2 separate regions of the Homo sapiens genome follow, and region 2 is linked to region 1. The links come from fine-mapping of genetic effects on gene expression. Tissue or cell type: aorta. Region 1 holds a variant in brackets; the other region holds the start of a gene. All regions are shown on one strand. Distances are between the middles of the regions.

Region 1 (8,054 bases):
CTAAGACACACACATATATATGTATATATAACGTTCTAAGACTTTCAGGGATTCCTGTACTGTTGATAGTACCAAATCCTATATATGTGCTGTTTTTTTCCTATACAGATATACATATATACGTATGATAAAGTTTAGTTTATAAATTAGGCACAGTAAGAGATTAACAACCTTAACTAATAATAAAGTAGAACGTGGCCGGGCAAGGCTGCTCACAGCTATAATCTCAATGTTTTGGGAGACCAAGGCAGGAGGATTGCTTGAGTCCAGGAGTTTGAGACCAGCCTGGGCAATATGAGACCCTGTCTGTACAAAAAAGTTTAAAAATTAGCCGGGTATGGTGGCATGCACCTGTAGTCCTAGCTATTTGGGAGGCTGAGGTGGGAGAATTGCTTGAACCTAGGAGTTTGAGCCTACAGTGAACTATGATTGAGCCATGACACTCTAGCCTGGGCAATAGAGCAAAACCCTGTCTCCAAAAAACTAAAAGTTTAAAAAAATAAAGTGGAACACTAATAACAATATACAGTAATCAATGTAAAATTAAGGTTATTTGAACATAAGCACTGCCATACTGCAGCAGGATGGCCACTAAGTAACTAATGGACACATTCCTTATAAAACATGGATGTGCTGGACAAAGAGATGATTCACCTCTCTGGAGAGAAGGAGTGCAATTTAAAACTTATGAATTGTTTATTTCTGGAATTTTTCATATAATATTTTTGGACCGTGATTGACTGTGAGTAACTGAAATCATGGAGAGCAAAACTGTGGCTAAGCGGGGACTACTGTACTTGATGCATTTTCCTTTTAGGAATTCTTTTAAGTTATTTTTCATTTGTTAGATGTGTCTTACAAAGAATAGATAAAAACATGTACATTTTAGGAATAATAATAAAAGGAACATAGGTATAGTAGGACTGATGTTCCGTATGGTAGCTATTATACAATCCACATGTGGCTGTTGAACACTTATAATGTCGCTAGTGTGAATTCACATGTGATGTGTGAAAAAACACAAACCAGATTTTGAAACCTGGTATGAAAAACAAAAATAATGTAATGTATTTATATGGATCCAAAATGTAATATATATATGGATCCAAATATATGTATATATATCCAAAATATATATCCAAAATAATGTAATATATTGCTATATATATATATGTACACACACACATACATATATGGATCCAGTTTTATACTCATTATTTTTTCTGGGTTTGTTTCACAGTGTGTTTTTGTATGTATTTCTATCAACTTAACTAAATTAGTTTTCTAAGTGTCATCATGAATAGCATAACCTGCCACGTTTATGTAAAACGTGAGAAATGTCTAAATGACCAACATATATAGGTAAAATGTTTAAGCTGAGAGCCTTATTTCAAGTCTACGTTAAATGTATTATATGATTTTGGTGTTTTTTTTGTGTTTTTTTTTTTCTGAGTTGGAGTCTCGCTCTGTTGCCCAGGCTGGAGCGCAGTGGCGTGATCTTGGCTCACTGCAACCTCCACCTTCTGGGTTTTAAGCTATTCTCCTGCCTCAGCCTCCTGAGTAGCTGGGATTACAGGCATATATATATATGTGTATACACACACACACACACACACACACACACACACGCATACATATATATAGCAATAGGAATATATATATATATTTTGAGACAAGTTCTGGCTCTGTCACCCAAGCTGGAGTGCCGTGACACGATCTCAGCTCTCTGCAACCTCTGTCTCCCAGGCTCAAGCCCTCCTCCCATGTTGCCCAGGCTGGTCTCGAACTTGTGAGCTCAAGTGATCCACCTGCCTCAGCCTCCCGCAGTGCTGGGATTGCAGGCGTGAGCCACTGTGCCTGACCCAAGATATTGCTTGCTTGATACCATGTTGAAAATTTTAGATGTTTTGAGTTAAGTAACATTATTAAAATTAATTTCACCTCTTTTTACTTTTTAAAAAATACCTACTAGGCCGAGTGCAGTTACTCATGCCTGTAATCCTAGCACTTTGGGAGGCCAAGGTGGGAAGATTGCATGAAGCCAGGAGTCCGAGACCAGCCTGGTCAACATAGTGAGACCCCATCCTTAAAAAATAAAAACATTTTTTAAGTGACTGGGCATAGTGGGGTGTGCCTGTAGTCCTAGCTCCTGGAGAGGCTGAAGTGGGAGGTTTGCTTGAGCCCAGGAGTTCAAGGCTGTAGTGAGCTGTGATGGTGCCACTGCAATCCAACCTGGGTGAAGGAGGGAGACCCTGTCTCTTAAAAAAAAAAAAATGCCTGCTAGACAATTTACAGTTACATATGTGGCTTGCATTTGTGATTCACATTATATATTTCTGTTGAACAGTACTGCCTGCACAGTTGGCCAGGTATGGTGGCTCACACCTATAATTGCAGCACTTTCAGAGGTTAAGGAGGGAGGATTACTTGAGCCCAGGAGTTACAGACCAGCCCGGGCAACAAAGTGAGACCCCATCTCTACAAAAAAATAAAATAATTAGCCAGGTGTCGTGATACAGGCCTGTAGTCCCAGCTACTTGGGAGGCTGAGGCAGGAGGATCCCTTGAGTCCTGGAAATCAAGGTTGCAGTGAGCTGTGTTCATACCACAGAGCAAGATGCTATCTCAAAATGAGTCCTGGAAATCAAGGCTGCAGTGAGCCGTGTTCATACCACAGAGCAAGATGCTATCTCAAAAAAAAAAAAAAGAAAAAAAGAGAAAGAAAACTTTACAGTTCTTTTCCTCAACCCGTCTCCCCCCACAAAATAATCACTATCCTGATTGATGTATTTGTTCCCTTACTTTTCTTTGTCATTTTATTTCCTGTGCATATATCTCTAAATAACGCATTGTTTAGTTTTTAAAAAAAATGAAACTAGGAAGCACACACTTCAGGGCAGTGTAAACAACGGACTCTAATGTCACTTTCTCTCTTTTTTTTTTTTTTTTTTTTTGGTGAGAGGAGTCTTGCTCTGTCACCCAGGTTGGAGTGCAGTGGTGCGATCTCGGCTCACTGCAAGCTCCGCCTCCTGGGTTCACGCCATTCTCCTGCCTCAGCCTCCCGAGTAGCTGGGACTACGGGCCCCCTCACCACCACACCTGGCTAATTTTTTGTATTTTTAGTAGAGATGGGGTGTCACTGTGTTAGCCAGGCTGGTCTCGATCTCCTGACCTTGTGATCCACACTC[T/C]TCGGCCTCCCAAAGTGCTGGGATTACAAGCGTGAGCCACCGCACCCAGCCTTCTAATGTCACTTTCAGATGCAGCTCCTAGAAGATGAGCTGAACAGAATCTTAGGGTCAAGTCCGGATTCAGCTTCCCTGTGAATTTTTAGAGCCTCCCTGGGGAAGCTTGTGAGCACAGTCATGAGTGGATTATGGGAAACCTAGGGCTCACACTGGAGTTAGGGCATCTGGCACACTGAAACCATTGCTCACCGTGTGCCGGAGATGTGGAGGAATATGGTCAGAGGGAGTTAGCTGCTCTGGTATTTTCTGCTTCTAGGCTCACCATGACCTACCTTCTTTTATCCTTTTTTTTTTTTTTTAATTTCTTTTGTCAAAATTGATGTCTCATTCCAGAGCTACCTTCTTTTCACAGGAGTGAGTCAAAGCACATCACCTTTGTCAGCTCAAATGAGTGTCCTTAGCTGGTCCCAGCAGTGGGGAAGGCTTATATATGAGCATTTTGCCCTCAGGATCTTGGTGATGACCATCCTCAGAATGTCCATCTCTTCAATCTAGACTGATTGTCCTCTATATCCAGCGCACTGCTTTCATACTGATTTCTGTGTTCATCCTCTGCTGTGAGGGGCTTTTTTGTTTTTTTCTTTTTGTTTCTTTTTCAGTTTTTCTGTCTTCCTGTTTCTTGGTTTACGGTCTCTTTGTGGATAACAGAGTTGTTGCATATTTGAAGTGTCTTTATTCTACGATACTTTATTGTAAGTTTGTCTTGTTCTAGAGTTTGAGGTTAGAGATTATTTTCGTTAAGAAGGCCTTGTTTCATTGTCTTGGTTTAAATGTTGCAGTTGAAAATCTCTGAAGTCATTGTGTTTCCTGATCTGTTTGTGACCAATTTCCCCGTCTTTGGAAGTTTGTAAAATCTTTGTCTCCATGTTTTGGTATTTATCTATGATGTAACCTAGTGTCGGTCCACAGTCATTCCTTGTGCAGGGTACTTGCCAGCCCTTTACAGTATGGCAGCTGTGTCCTTCGTAAGGAAATTTTCTTATATTAATTGATGACTTCCTTTCTTATATTTTTTCTATTCTTTTCTGGAACATCTACTATTTGGATGTTAGACCCACAGGAATGATCCTGTTACCTTATTTTCTTACTGTCTCTTTTGTCTTTTTGGTCTACCTTCCAGAAGATTTCCTCTACTTTATCTTCAGAGTCTTATATTGGGTCTTAATTTCTACTATATTTCAACAGAGCTTTTTGTTTGTTTGTTTGTTTTGAGACGGAGTCTCGCTCTGTCGCCCAGGCTGGAGTGCAGTGGTGCGATCTCGCCTCACTGCAAGCTCCGCCTCCCGGGTTCACGCCATTCTCCTGCCTCAGCCTCCCACGCGTAGCTGGGACTAGAGGTGCCCACCACCACGCCTGGCTAATTTTTTGTATTTTTTTTTTTTTTTTTAGTAGAGACAGGGTTTCACCAAGAGCTCTTTTTTGTGTGTGCTACAAATGTTCCTTTTTTGTTAGTATCCTCTTCTTGTTTATCGGGTACATTTTATCTGAGAATCTAGCTGGTAGATTTTTACTGCTTTACATCACTTCAGAGGAAATGGCTGCAACTGAAGGGTGAAAGTCAGAATTTATCTTGGCTCAGCTTTTCATGTAAGAAAAGAAAAATACAGTGAAACCAAATTAAAATAATTATGTGGAGAGCATATTGGTGGCAAGTTAATACATTTTTATGACTTTTTGGAGGGTCTAATTTATTCTTAACAGAAGTCTGAGTTTAGTATCCATTTATTGAATATGTATTTATATGTGTATACGCACACACACACAGTGTATTAAATCTATTGAATTCCAGACACTTTCTTTTTTTTTTTTTTTTTTTTTTTTTTTGAGACGGAGTCTCGCTCTGTCGCCCAGGCTGGAGTGCAGTGGCGCATCTCGGCTCACTGCAAGCTCCGCCTCCCGGGTTCACGCCATTCTCCTGCCTCAGCCTACTGAGTAGGTGCCCGCCACCACGCCCAGCTGATTTTTTTGTATTTTTTTAGTAGAGATGGGGTTTCACTGTGTTAGCCATGATGGTCTCGATCTCCTGACCTCGTGATCCATCTGCCTCGGCCTCCCAAAGTGCTGGGATTACAGGTGTGAGCCACCACACCCGGCCTCCAGACACTTTCTTTAGTTTTTCATTTTATGATTTCTCTTTTGGACTGTAAGATGATCGGTAAATTACATTAAATCACTATAGAAGAAGCTATTTTTACACATACATGCAACCCAGTTATGATTCAGAGGCAAACAAGATTGAATGACTGTAGAGATTATCTGACAGTTGAGCAGCTGACTGTCCATTTATGAACAGGGAGGTGCATGTGGCTAAAGGAGGATGAGTCAGAACCAAGTATCTTCTAAAGGAATCTGTTGAATAGACTACAGAAATGATTACAGCAAGCGACAGGGTACATACTTCTTCAGTGGAATATCTTGTTTTCTTGGGTGCCTATGGCCATCCCAGTATTACTGTTGGATGATTCATTGGTCTGTGGGTAGGAACAACTCTTCATTGTCAGGGAAAAAACAGCATGTCTCCTTTGGAAAGAAATTACTGTCAGTGTTGCTGTGATGTTCTCTATGTTTTATAAGTTTTCATTTTGTGCTTTTTGTTGGTGATTTCACTGTTTAAAATGGCCCACAAGCATAATGTTAAAGTGCAGTCTAGTATTCCTTAAATGCAAGAAGGCCGTAATGTGCCTTATGGAGAAAATGTACATGTTAGATAAGTTCCCTTCAGTCATGAGTTACAGTGCTGTCAGCTGTGAGTTCAGTGTTAGTGAATCAGCAATATATATTGAAGATGATGTCTGAACAGAAGCATACATAAAACAAAATTATGTATTGATCAGTTGAGGAAGATGTTAGGCTAGAAGGAACCTACGTCTGCATTTCCCCTAGGAACAGTGGTTTAGTGTTCACTGATACAGTGTTCATGTAGATTTGATAGAGTATAACAATGGCAAGTCGTGTGTGTGTGTATGTGTGTAGGCTTAATGGTTTTCTTTACCCAGTATTTACTATGTTTTTTTCCATTAACAGCATAATGTAAACATCCCGTGTAACATGCTTGTTTTTGGTGGTGAGGGATGCTTGTTTTTGGTGGTCAAGGATCAGCAGACCTGCCTGGATTCTAGCAGGCTTTTTTTTTTTTTTTTAAGACAGAGTCTCGCTCTGTCACCAGGTTGGAGTGCAGTGGCATGATCTCAGCTCACTGCAACTTCGGCTTCCCGGGTTCAAGCAGGTCTCCTGCCTCAGCCTCCTGAGTAGCTGGGACTACAGGTGCGTGCCACCACACCCAGCTAATTTTTGTATTTTTAGTAGAGACGGGGTTTCACCATGTTGGCCAGGATGGTCTTGATCTCTTGACCTCGTGATCCACCCTTCTTGGCCTCCCAAAGTGCAGGGATTACAGGCGTGAGCCACCATGCCCGGCCTCTAGCAGGCTTTTTATTTTTGAGATGGAGTCTCACTCTTTCGCCCAGGCTGGGGTGCAGTGGTGCAATCTTGGCTCACTGCAACCTTTGCCTCCTGGATTCAAGTGATTCTCCTTTCTCAGCCTCCCGAGTTGGTGGGATTACAGGCACCTGCCACCATGCCCGGCTAATTTTTGTATTTTTAGTAGAGACGGGGTTTCACCATGTTGGCCAGGCTGGTCTCGAACTTCTGACCTCAGATGATTTGCCTGCCTTGGCCTCCCAAAGCACATGGATTACAGGCGTGAGCCACCGCGCCTATCCTCTAGCAGGCTTTTTAAAGGTCAGTGTTCAATTTGGAAGTTTATTTATTCAGCTCATTATCATTGGGCGTCTAGGTTATTTCTGATCATTTACCATTATTTACAAAAATCCCCTGAGAATGAACATTCTTGTAATAGAATTTTTTTTTACATCTTTGATTAAGTTTTAGGCTAATTCACAGACGTGGCATTGCTGTGTCAAAGGAAAATGCACCCTTATTCCCCCAAATTGCCTTCCCAAAATCATTAGCCAGTTTACCCTCCCCCTGACAATGTAATATAACCTGTTTTCCCTCCTGATACATGTTATTGAAATGTTTTTCAATTTATTTTAATATTTGTTTTAAAATAGTTATCTTGTTCTGATTTAATATGTTAGTGAACTTTTTTTCATAATTTTTGGTTAGTTATGTTAATTTTGTTCTAAACTATTCTTTTCCACATGGTTAGCCAGTTTTTTCAACTCCACTGGTTAAATAAAATATCCTTTTACTATTGATTTTAAGTGTTGCCTTTTTCATATGTTAAGTATTTATATACTTGGTTTCATTTTTGAATTTTTTGGTTTTGTTCCATTAAGTTGTAGCTGACTGCCACAGCACTCCTATATATTTATTGGTTGTGTTGTATGTTTTAGTATCTGAAAGGGCAAAAAATTACTCTTTCTCTAATTTCTCATGGATGGCCTGATTGTTTTATGTGAACTGTAGACTTCCCAAATTCTAAAAAACATTATTTTGATATTTCAGATATTTCATTGGAATTTTGTTGAAGATTACTTTGGGATAAATTGTCATTTGTAGTCTTTCCAGTCATGAATATGACATCACACTAGTTATTCAAATCGGTTGTTGTTGTTGTTGTTGTTGTTGTTGTTGAGATGGAGTCTTGCTCTGTCGCCCAGGCTGGAGTGCAGTGGCACCATCTTGGCTCACTGCAACTTCTGCCTCCTGGGTTCAAGTGATTCTCCTGCCTCAGCCTCCTGAGTAGCTGGGATTACAGTTGTGCGCCACCATGTCCAACTAATTTTTGTATTTTTAGTATTGATTGGATTTCACCATGTTGGCCAGGTTGGTCTCCAACTCCTGA
Region 2 (8,054 bases), 170 kb after region 1:
TCAGAATATATGTGAGCATCTGAGGGAAAAAGACAGGGCATTGGGGACTGTTAGAGGTGGGAGGTCTTTGGAACCCACTCCAGCTGACAGCACCATGGGTCTGAGGGCACCAGAGCCCTGGCTTCTACTTTATCTTGGATGTGAAGCTTCACGAAGCATTCACTTCCCCGCTCCAGGCTTCAGGTATCTTTCCTGTAAACAAACCTTTCCTGAGCTGGGTGCAGGCTTGCACTGACTGATAAGAATCAAACTTCCTGCCTAGCTGGGTAGAAAAAGCCTGGGCATTGAGGCCAGATAAACCTAGTTCAAATCTCTACTCTGCCAACTGACCTCTCGAACTTTGTTTTCCTTATCTGTGAAATTGCAATTGTAGTGAGATTTAAATGGATTATTGTGAGAATTAAAGAACACAGCCAAGTGTCTTGCATAGGACCTAGAGCACAGCAGGCCAGGTGTGCTCACTCTGGTCCTCAGGAAGTCATGCTTGGTCCTCCTGCCCTCATGGCTCAGGCTCTGGGACCCTGCTGTTTTTCTGTCTTCTTCACTGCCACCTTGCCCTCTCCACTGGTTGTTAAGATGCGCTCCCAGCAAGACCTAGCCTGGGAGGCTCAGGCCCTTCCCCCCACCTAGGGGGTGGTGAGGTTAGAGGTCCTAAATGGGACTGGGGAAGGGGTTACCAGTGAGGCCTAGAATGATTTGATATTAACTCTTCTTTTCTTCTGGAATCTTCCTCCCTGCATCCCAATTGTCTCGTTTTTGGATTCTTCTGTGGCTCCCAGGGCTCAGACCTGGGTCTTTTGGTTTTCTGTTTACCAACACAGGAATAACCAACAATTCAATATTCCCATATTGTCCTATTATCCAAGTGCTAGTCCATATTGCCAACTGTCCATGCAAATGTTTAGCCATCACTTTAATCTCAACCAAAACTCATGTTCTACCCTCAGCCCAAAACAGCCTCTCCTCCCAAATTCCCCTTTCAATGCCAACAGTGCATCTACCTGATAACACTTTCAACTATTCAAACCATTCTGTCCCTTCCTCCCAGATACAGGTGTAATGCACAGGCTTTAGGCCAGGCTAACCTAAACTCATTCAAATTCCAGCTCCACTACTTCCACATATACTGATGTGTGACCTTAAACAAGGTACTTGACCTCTGGGAGTTTCAGTTTCCATATCTATAAAATAGGGATACTTTAAAAAAATCTAGATCATAGCCTCATGGGGATTAAATTTTACATATATATAGTGTGTGTGTGACAACTAGATGTTCCATAAATGGTTGCTGGATTGCTGTTACTAAAATTTCTACCTCTGCAACTTCCCCACCTCAGTAGCTCAGATTTCTACCACCCCAAACCTGGATTCCTTCCACAATCTCCCACCTGAACTCTTTGCCTCCAAGTTCATCCTTGCTAATACATTATGCACACTGTCACAAGGTTAATTTTTCCTATAAAACAGTTTTCAGTTTCAGCTCACCCCTGCTGTAAAACTTCAGGGTTCACAGTACTCTCAGGACAGTCTCCACTCCTGGATCAGCACTGCCAGGCCTCTGTGCCTGATTGGACTCGCTGGTCCCCAAACTTCCCCAGTCCAGTCTCCCCATTGCCCTACGCACACAGCATGTCTATTTCCTTTTGCCTATGCGGGCCTTTTCCCTGGGATCCCCTTCTTGAAGCTTAACTTCACCAACCCATTGTGATCTCTCCTTCCTTTCTCAGATGCCAAGCACGCAGGCACAGTGCTCAGCCAGTGCTTACTGGATTAAATTAAGGTTGGACAGTCCAGTCCTCTACCTCTATTTTCACCAAGAGTATGCTCAGGGAAGGGGTCGGGGAAATAAAGCAGTCATTACTGAGAGGACAATGACTGGCAGAATAGACTTCTGGGCCAGGAAGGGAGGCATAGGGAAGACAGTATTGATGGGGACTGGGACTGACCAAGTCCCAATCCCTCCAGGGAGGCACGGAAGCCTGTTTGAGCTGAGTTAAGACAGTGGCCATCCTGTCTTCTGGGGCTAAGCAGCCAGCCCAAGAGCAAAGGGAGAGGGGAACAAACCTGTCATCCCTTGGGGTGAGTCGGGAAGGGACACAATTCATTGACCTAAGAAGAGGGTGGCCTTTCTAGAGGGACAAGAGGAGGCAGTGATGAGGATGGAGTGACCATCCCATGAGTCCCATCTCAAGGGGGCTACTGGAGATAATGATTGGTCACTCATGGGGTCTATGGGGATGGAAATAGATAGCCCCTAAAGCTAAGGGGGAAAGGGATAGCACTGCAAGCTCAATAGGGGTGGGAACAGGCCTATTTTTGCTAAGGACAGGAGCATCATTCCAGGACCGATGGGAAAGGGTGGCCTGTTTCCCATGGGCAGAGAGAGGGGGCTGCCAACCCTCAGGACAAAAGAGATGGAGAAGCCATTCCAACAGGCCACTGAAGACAAAACCTGTTATCTCCCTGGCAGATGGGGCAGAGTGGTCTTGCCCCTGGCTAAGGGGAAGGAGCAAACATCCCACGGAGTGAAAGAGGTAAGGGCGGCCATCACTAGGGGCCTAGGAATGGGGAACAGGCCTATCCTTGTTAAAGGAACTCAGAGATCATTGCAGTTGATGGGGAGGGAGCAGTCTGTTTCCCACTGCCAGGGAGAAGGGGCGGCCGTCTCTGTAGGAAATGGAGAGATCATCCCAAGGGACCAATGGGGATAAGATCAGTTACCCTTCGGGACGATGAGATGGAGCGGACATCTTCCAGAACTGAGCGGGGAGGAGACAGCCACTTCAAGGGAAGGGGATGGGCAGAGGGCCTGTTCTCGCGGAGATGACAGGGCAGCTATCTTCTGGGGCCGATAGGGAAGGGGAGGACGGTCCCCCAAGCTAAAGGGACAGAGTGGCCCAAAGGAGGAACCGTTACCCAGAGCTAGAAGGTCCCGGGATCGGGAGGGCGGGTCGTTTCCGCCAGGCTGGAGGGGCCGGGCTAGCTATCTGACAGCCCCTCCCCAAAGCTCAGGACCGCGAGGGCGGGGCCTGTCCAGAGCTAGGCCTGAGGGCGGCTTCCTCTCACCTCCAGGGGCAGCGACTCCGCCATCGCATCCCTGCCGCCTCCGCCCCCACTGCGCAAGGCTTTCTGGGAAATGTAGTCTCGCCTCTTTGGGGCGGGGCTTGGGAAGGAAGTGAGACCTATTTCCGTCGCAAAAGCTGACGACTTCGGTCTGCGCCGGAAGTGCATGAGCTGCCGATGTGGTGCTTAGTGATTGCGGTTTCGGTCGCTCTCCCGTGTTTCCCGGGCTGGGTATTTGCCTCGCACCATGGCGGTAAGGAGGATGGATAGGGCGGGGTCCGCACCAGCAAAGCTCTCCAGGGGCTGTGAGAGTGAAAACTGAGAAAGAACATTAAGGGATATGGGGTGGGCCAGAGCGGGGCGCCATCCCTGGCCAGACCGTGCTAGAGCTGGGCTGGGGGGATGGCGGCGCAGGACCATACCAGGACTAGTGCCAGAGCGGGGTGGGCATCAGTACCAGGGCAGGCCAGAGATCTAAGTGACCTGAGGTGGGGGTTAACCCAGATCGGGACTACGCCAGCGGAGGCCTGAGAGAGGCACCATTCAACTCCGCTCAGGAGTACCCTTGGAAGAGTCGTTAGCCTAAAGCCAGACTACCACGGGATCCAGAGGCGGTATTAGCTTAGGATTGAATTGTTCCAGGGCGAGCAAGAGGCGATTGATCCTAGCTGCGGGTGCTGGAGAGATGGCGTCAGCCCTAGGCAGAATGGACTGGAGGATGGGTGGACATCCCAGGGATTTTGCTAGGTTTCTGCACTACGGGGACCTGGCTGAGTTGCGGATGGAGCTCTATAGCTCACCAGGCTGGTGGGGAGAATGAGGAGGACCGTGGCCTCCTGACGGCATCTCATCATTCCTCTGCAGCCCAAGGGCAAAGTGGGCACGAGAGGGAAGAAGCAGATATTTGAAGAGAACAGAGAGACTCTGAAGTTCTACCTGCGGATCATACTGGGGGCCAATGTAAGTGCCTACCTCCTTGCTTCTATGCCCACTTATAGTCAGTTCCCTAGTCCTCAGCCCTGCTTGGTGACGAGGAGTGGTACCCGAAAAAGCTCTAGAAGAGAGCTCCAGTCAAAAAGAAATGAGAGATCTGGGCACAGAGAAAGTGCTAACTAGTAAAACACAAAGAAAATGAAGGCGTGAGTCGTAGCTGAATTTGAGAGCTCTTCCTACCTCCAAGTACACAAAGGCTTCTTTCCTGGGCTGAGTTGGGTGTCAGAGGAGAGTGGGTATTTGGGATTCAGGGAGCAGGGCCCTTTCTTCAACCCTGTAAGAACAACCTTGCTCCTCCCACAGCCTGGCCTAATTCTTGGTCAGAGTTGAGGGAGACCCATGGTTTGGAGGTAACTTCTGACCCCAACCTGATCCTGTGATTGCTTGCAGGCCATTTACTGCCTTGTGACGTTGGTCTTCTTTTACTCATCTGCCTCATTTTGGGCCTGGGTAAGTATCTCCATCCTGGGAGGTGGATGAGTGCGTAGGGTCAGTGGCTGGCCTTTGATACCCTCATTCTTGCTCTGCAGTTGGCCCTGGGCTTTAGTCTGGCAGTGTATGGGGCCAGCTACCACTCTATGAGCTCGATGGCACGAGCAGCGTTCTCTGAGGATGGGGCCCTGATGGATGGTGGCATGGACCTCAACATGGAGCAGGGCATGGCAGAGTGAGTGTCCCCCACCGCCAGCCCAGGTGAGCGGCCCCAGGGCTGGGGCCCAGATAGCCCAAGAAGCACAGCTACTTGTAACTTGAAAAGGGTGGAAGGGAGTTGCAACTTGAAAAGGGTGGAAGGGCCCATATGCTGTCTTTCCAGCTTTATTTCTATCCACAGGCACCTTAAGGATGTGATCCTACTGACAGCCATCGTGCAGGTGCTCAGCTGCTTCTCTCTCTATGTCTGGTCCTTCTGGCTTCTGGTATGTGGGCTGGGGGCGCTCCCAAGAAGGGGCATCTAACCCTCCCCATCTTTTATTCCCTGCATCTTGCTTCAAGTTACCGTTTCTCTTGTAGGCTCCAGGCCGGGCCCTTTACCTCCTGTGGGTGAATGTGCTGGGCCCCTGGTTCACTGCAGACAGTGGCACCCCAGCACCAGAGCACAATGAGAAACGGCAGCGCCGACAGGAGCGGCGGCAGATGAAGCGGTTATAGCCATTGACATTGTGGCCACAGGCCACTGGCCCTGGGTGGCTCTGTCAGGGTGCACAGCCCCTCATGCCTGGAGCAATGAGGGTCTAGTCCAGGGGCCAAAAGCAGTCTGAGGTATTGGGTATACTTATACTCTATAGGGTCGTTGAATAAATGGCTTAGAATGTGGCTGATGGCTGTGTGGGTGATGAGGGATGAGGCAGGAAAAGCTGGTCCTATGGGATTTCCCTCCTGCTACAAACCCAGCCTGGTGGGGACCCTGAAAGAAGAGAAACCTGTTGGATTAGCTAAGAAAATTTTATTTTGCTCCGTGCGTTCAAGGAGCTCACACACATGCACATGCATATGCATGCACACACACACATACACACACACTCACATGCATACACACACGGCTAATACTGCTCAAGGCATGGCTCCTGGGCACAGAGTTCTGGGGCCAGAATTCTGCTCTGGGCCCTCCTCACTCTGTCATCTCCTGCACTGCAGTCCAGGGTCCAGATAGATTTCCGGGATACAGCACCTTCACACCTCCAGGCCAGGACCCTTGCTTAGTCCCAGTGCCTGCACCAGGTCATCTCCGAGCCCACTCTTCAACGTCCTTCTCACTGCAGGGACAGAGCAGGGTTGGAGGGGGTTGATGGGGTTCAGGTGGGCAGTGGGATTGTGGGGGGTTACTTACAAGACTTGCGGTTGCCGCGGGAACGCTTGCGTTCCCTAGCAGCTAAGGCACGAGGACTGCTCTTGGTCACTGACTGCACCAGAAGGTCCATGATCTCATCTGATGTATCACTGGGTAAACTGGAGCCTGGGGGTTCTTCTGGGGATGCAGTGGAGGGCCCCACTGTGGGCATGATTGGGGAGCTGCTCTGGACCATGCCTGAGGAAGGCCAGATAGCAAAGTCAGGCCAAGGTGGCACTGGAGCCCATTCCCCACAGCTGCTATGGGCCTCACCTCTGCTGCGGCGATTGTGTGTGGTGTCCTCAGGCCTGCTGGTCAGCAGACTCTTCATACTAGCATGACTGTCAGCATCTCCCCGGCCTGGCCCGCTGCTCACTGCTACTGGGACAGAGGGGTTGCTGGGGGCTTCCCCAGCCACACCTGAGAACTTCTCTGTCTGGAGAAAGAAGAAGGGTGAGCTGGGAGGAGCGAAGGAAACCAAGGAGGTGGCAGTCAAGACTAAGACCTGGAAGGGCACCCACCTCGGTGATCATGCGTCCCCGGGTCTTGTTGCGCTCACGGTATGTGGCCTGCTTCTGCTGCTGCTGTAGCACTCGTTCCCGGCAAGTCCGATACTCAAGCGCAAATTCCCGCAGCGTGTGGCAGAACTGCATGATGCGCACTTCACGGGCCGCCTGCGGGGTGTAGCCCAGGTAGAGCAGGAAGGCATGGAACCTAGGCAGGTCAGAGTAGGGAGGGACAGTAAGTCCTGCTTATTGTCTGAGGGAGGGTGGTGGCCGTCCTGCCTCTCTTGGGTCCATGCCCCTACCTATTGCAGACACGGCGGTGCACTATCCTTAGCATGGCAACACGGCGGGCACACTGGTCCAGGAAGTGGGTGAGGCGGGCACGCAGGGCTGGGGCCAGCTCATGCTTGGCCAAGCTCCGCAGGCTCTCCTCGGCTGCCCGGCTCCGGCGCTCCAGCTGCCCCAGGTTCTCAGTCAGCTGTTCAAAGTCCACCTGAGAAAGCAAGGGGGTGCACATACTGTCCCCCCACACCCTGTAGACAAGACATGGCCCGAGGCTGCTTCTGGGCCAGAGTGGCCAGCTTGGGCCCTAAGGACACAGACATCCAAATCTCATAGACTAGTGCAAGAGACACAAGTCCATCTGATGTGAATGGGGAGCAGAAGGTTTACTGGGGGAAGTGGCAGTTAAACAGACCCAAAGACTGAGTAGGTGTGGCCAGGCCAATAGAGGAAAGAGCATTTCTGGCAGAGGGCATAGCTCACACCCAGGTGGCTGGAGCAAGCCCTGGCACAGCAGCCCAAATGGGGAGAAGGGGGAGGAGCCAGGCCCAGGAAGCAGCGCTCCTCATGCCTTGTCCGGCCTTGGTTGATTCTGGCAGGTGCTAACCTTGGCACAGCGGGTCAGGGCAGGGATTTCTGAATAGAGGTCAGAGGACTCAGGCCGGGTCTGGAGCACTAGGGAGCAGAGATGGTGTAGCAGTGACTGTCGACGCACCGTGTCCTTCACCTCTGACACCTTCTCCAGGTAGCTCAGCTCAAAGCCGCTGCTCTGAAAGGACCCTTTCTGAGCCTGGGCCTGGTTGGCTCCAGAACCCTGACTCCCCCTAGTCCCCATGTACTCTCACTCACCTGGGAGCCATTGAGGAAGTTGCCCACCGCTAGGAGGGTAGCCAGGATGCAGCGGAAGGTGGCATTCTGTACCAGCTGTTCCATACCCACTTTCAGGTCAAACAGTGGCTCAGCAATTTCCTGGTATGGGAGACCAGGGACTCTCAGACTACATGGTCATGATGCTTACCTGTCCCTACTGACTGTCCCACTCCAAGACCCAGGTACCCGCTCCATGCTGTCATAGTCCAGCTTGAAGGCCCAGAGTTGTAGACGAGCAGCGAGGCCGCCAATGGAGGCAAGAGTCATCAGGAAGTTCTCGGCTGGGCCCAGGGGTATGTCAGGGTTGGCCAGCTGGGCTTCCTCAATCTTCTGCCGCTCTTCCTCCGTGGGCATCATGGTCAGTAGCTTCTGAGGATGTAGCCAGAGCCTGACATGGCCCCCTCAATGCAGGCCTGAGGCCTGAGGCATTGGTCTTGACCCCTCAGTCATCTAGGGGAGGCCCCAGTGTCTGGGGACTGCCCTGCAGAAATGCCAAGCCCATGCCCACCACC

Evidence for each region. PIP is the estimated chance that this variant, and not a neighbour inherited with it, causes the effect.
Region 2: TMEM208 starts here. The variant in region 1 is fine-mapped to the expression of TMEM208 in aorta (GTEx, PIP 0.93).

Annotation. Positions count from the first base shown.
Region 1 is chr16:67,050,317-67,058,370 of GRCh38, forward strand. The region is part of intron 3 of CBFB (core-binding factor subunit beta); the gene reads left to right. Among named protein-coding and RNA genes, the nearest start is that of CBFB, 25 kb to the left of the region's middle. The variant T/C (reference allele first, on the strand shown) is at 3,188.
Region 2 is chr16:67,223,909-67,231,962 of GRCh38, forward strand. TMEM208 (transmembrane protein 208) reads left to right here and starts at 3,222. Exons shown (of 6, transcript NM_014187.4): 1 at 3,222-3,316; 2 at 3,928-4,023; 3 at 4,447-4,506; 4 at 4,587-4,723; 5 at 4,889-4,973; 6 at 5,068-5,370. The coding sequence starts at 3,311. The coding sequence ends at 5,205. FHOD1 (formin homology 2 domain containing 1) reads right to left here. Exons shown (of 22, transcript NM_013241.3): 15 at 7,729-7,911; 16 at 7,522-7,641; 17 at 7,280-7,441; 18 at 6,693-6,883; 19 at 6,406-6,598; 20 at 6,158-6,320; 21 at 5,885-6,082; 22 at 5,481-5,810. The coding sequence ends at 5,728. It also overlaps the pseudogene FBXL9P. RefSeq lists enhancers at 3,025-3,374, 7,448-7,949, 7,950-8,054.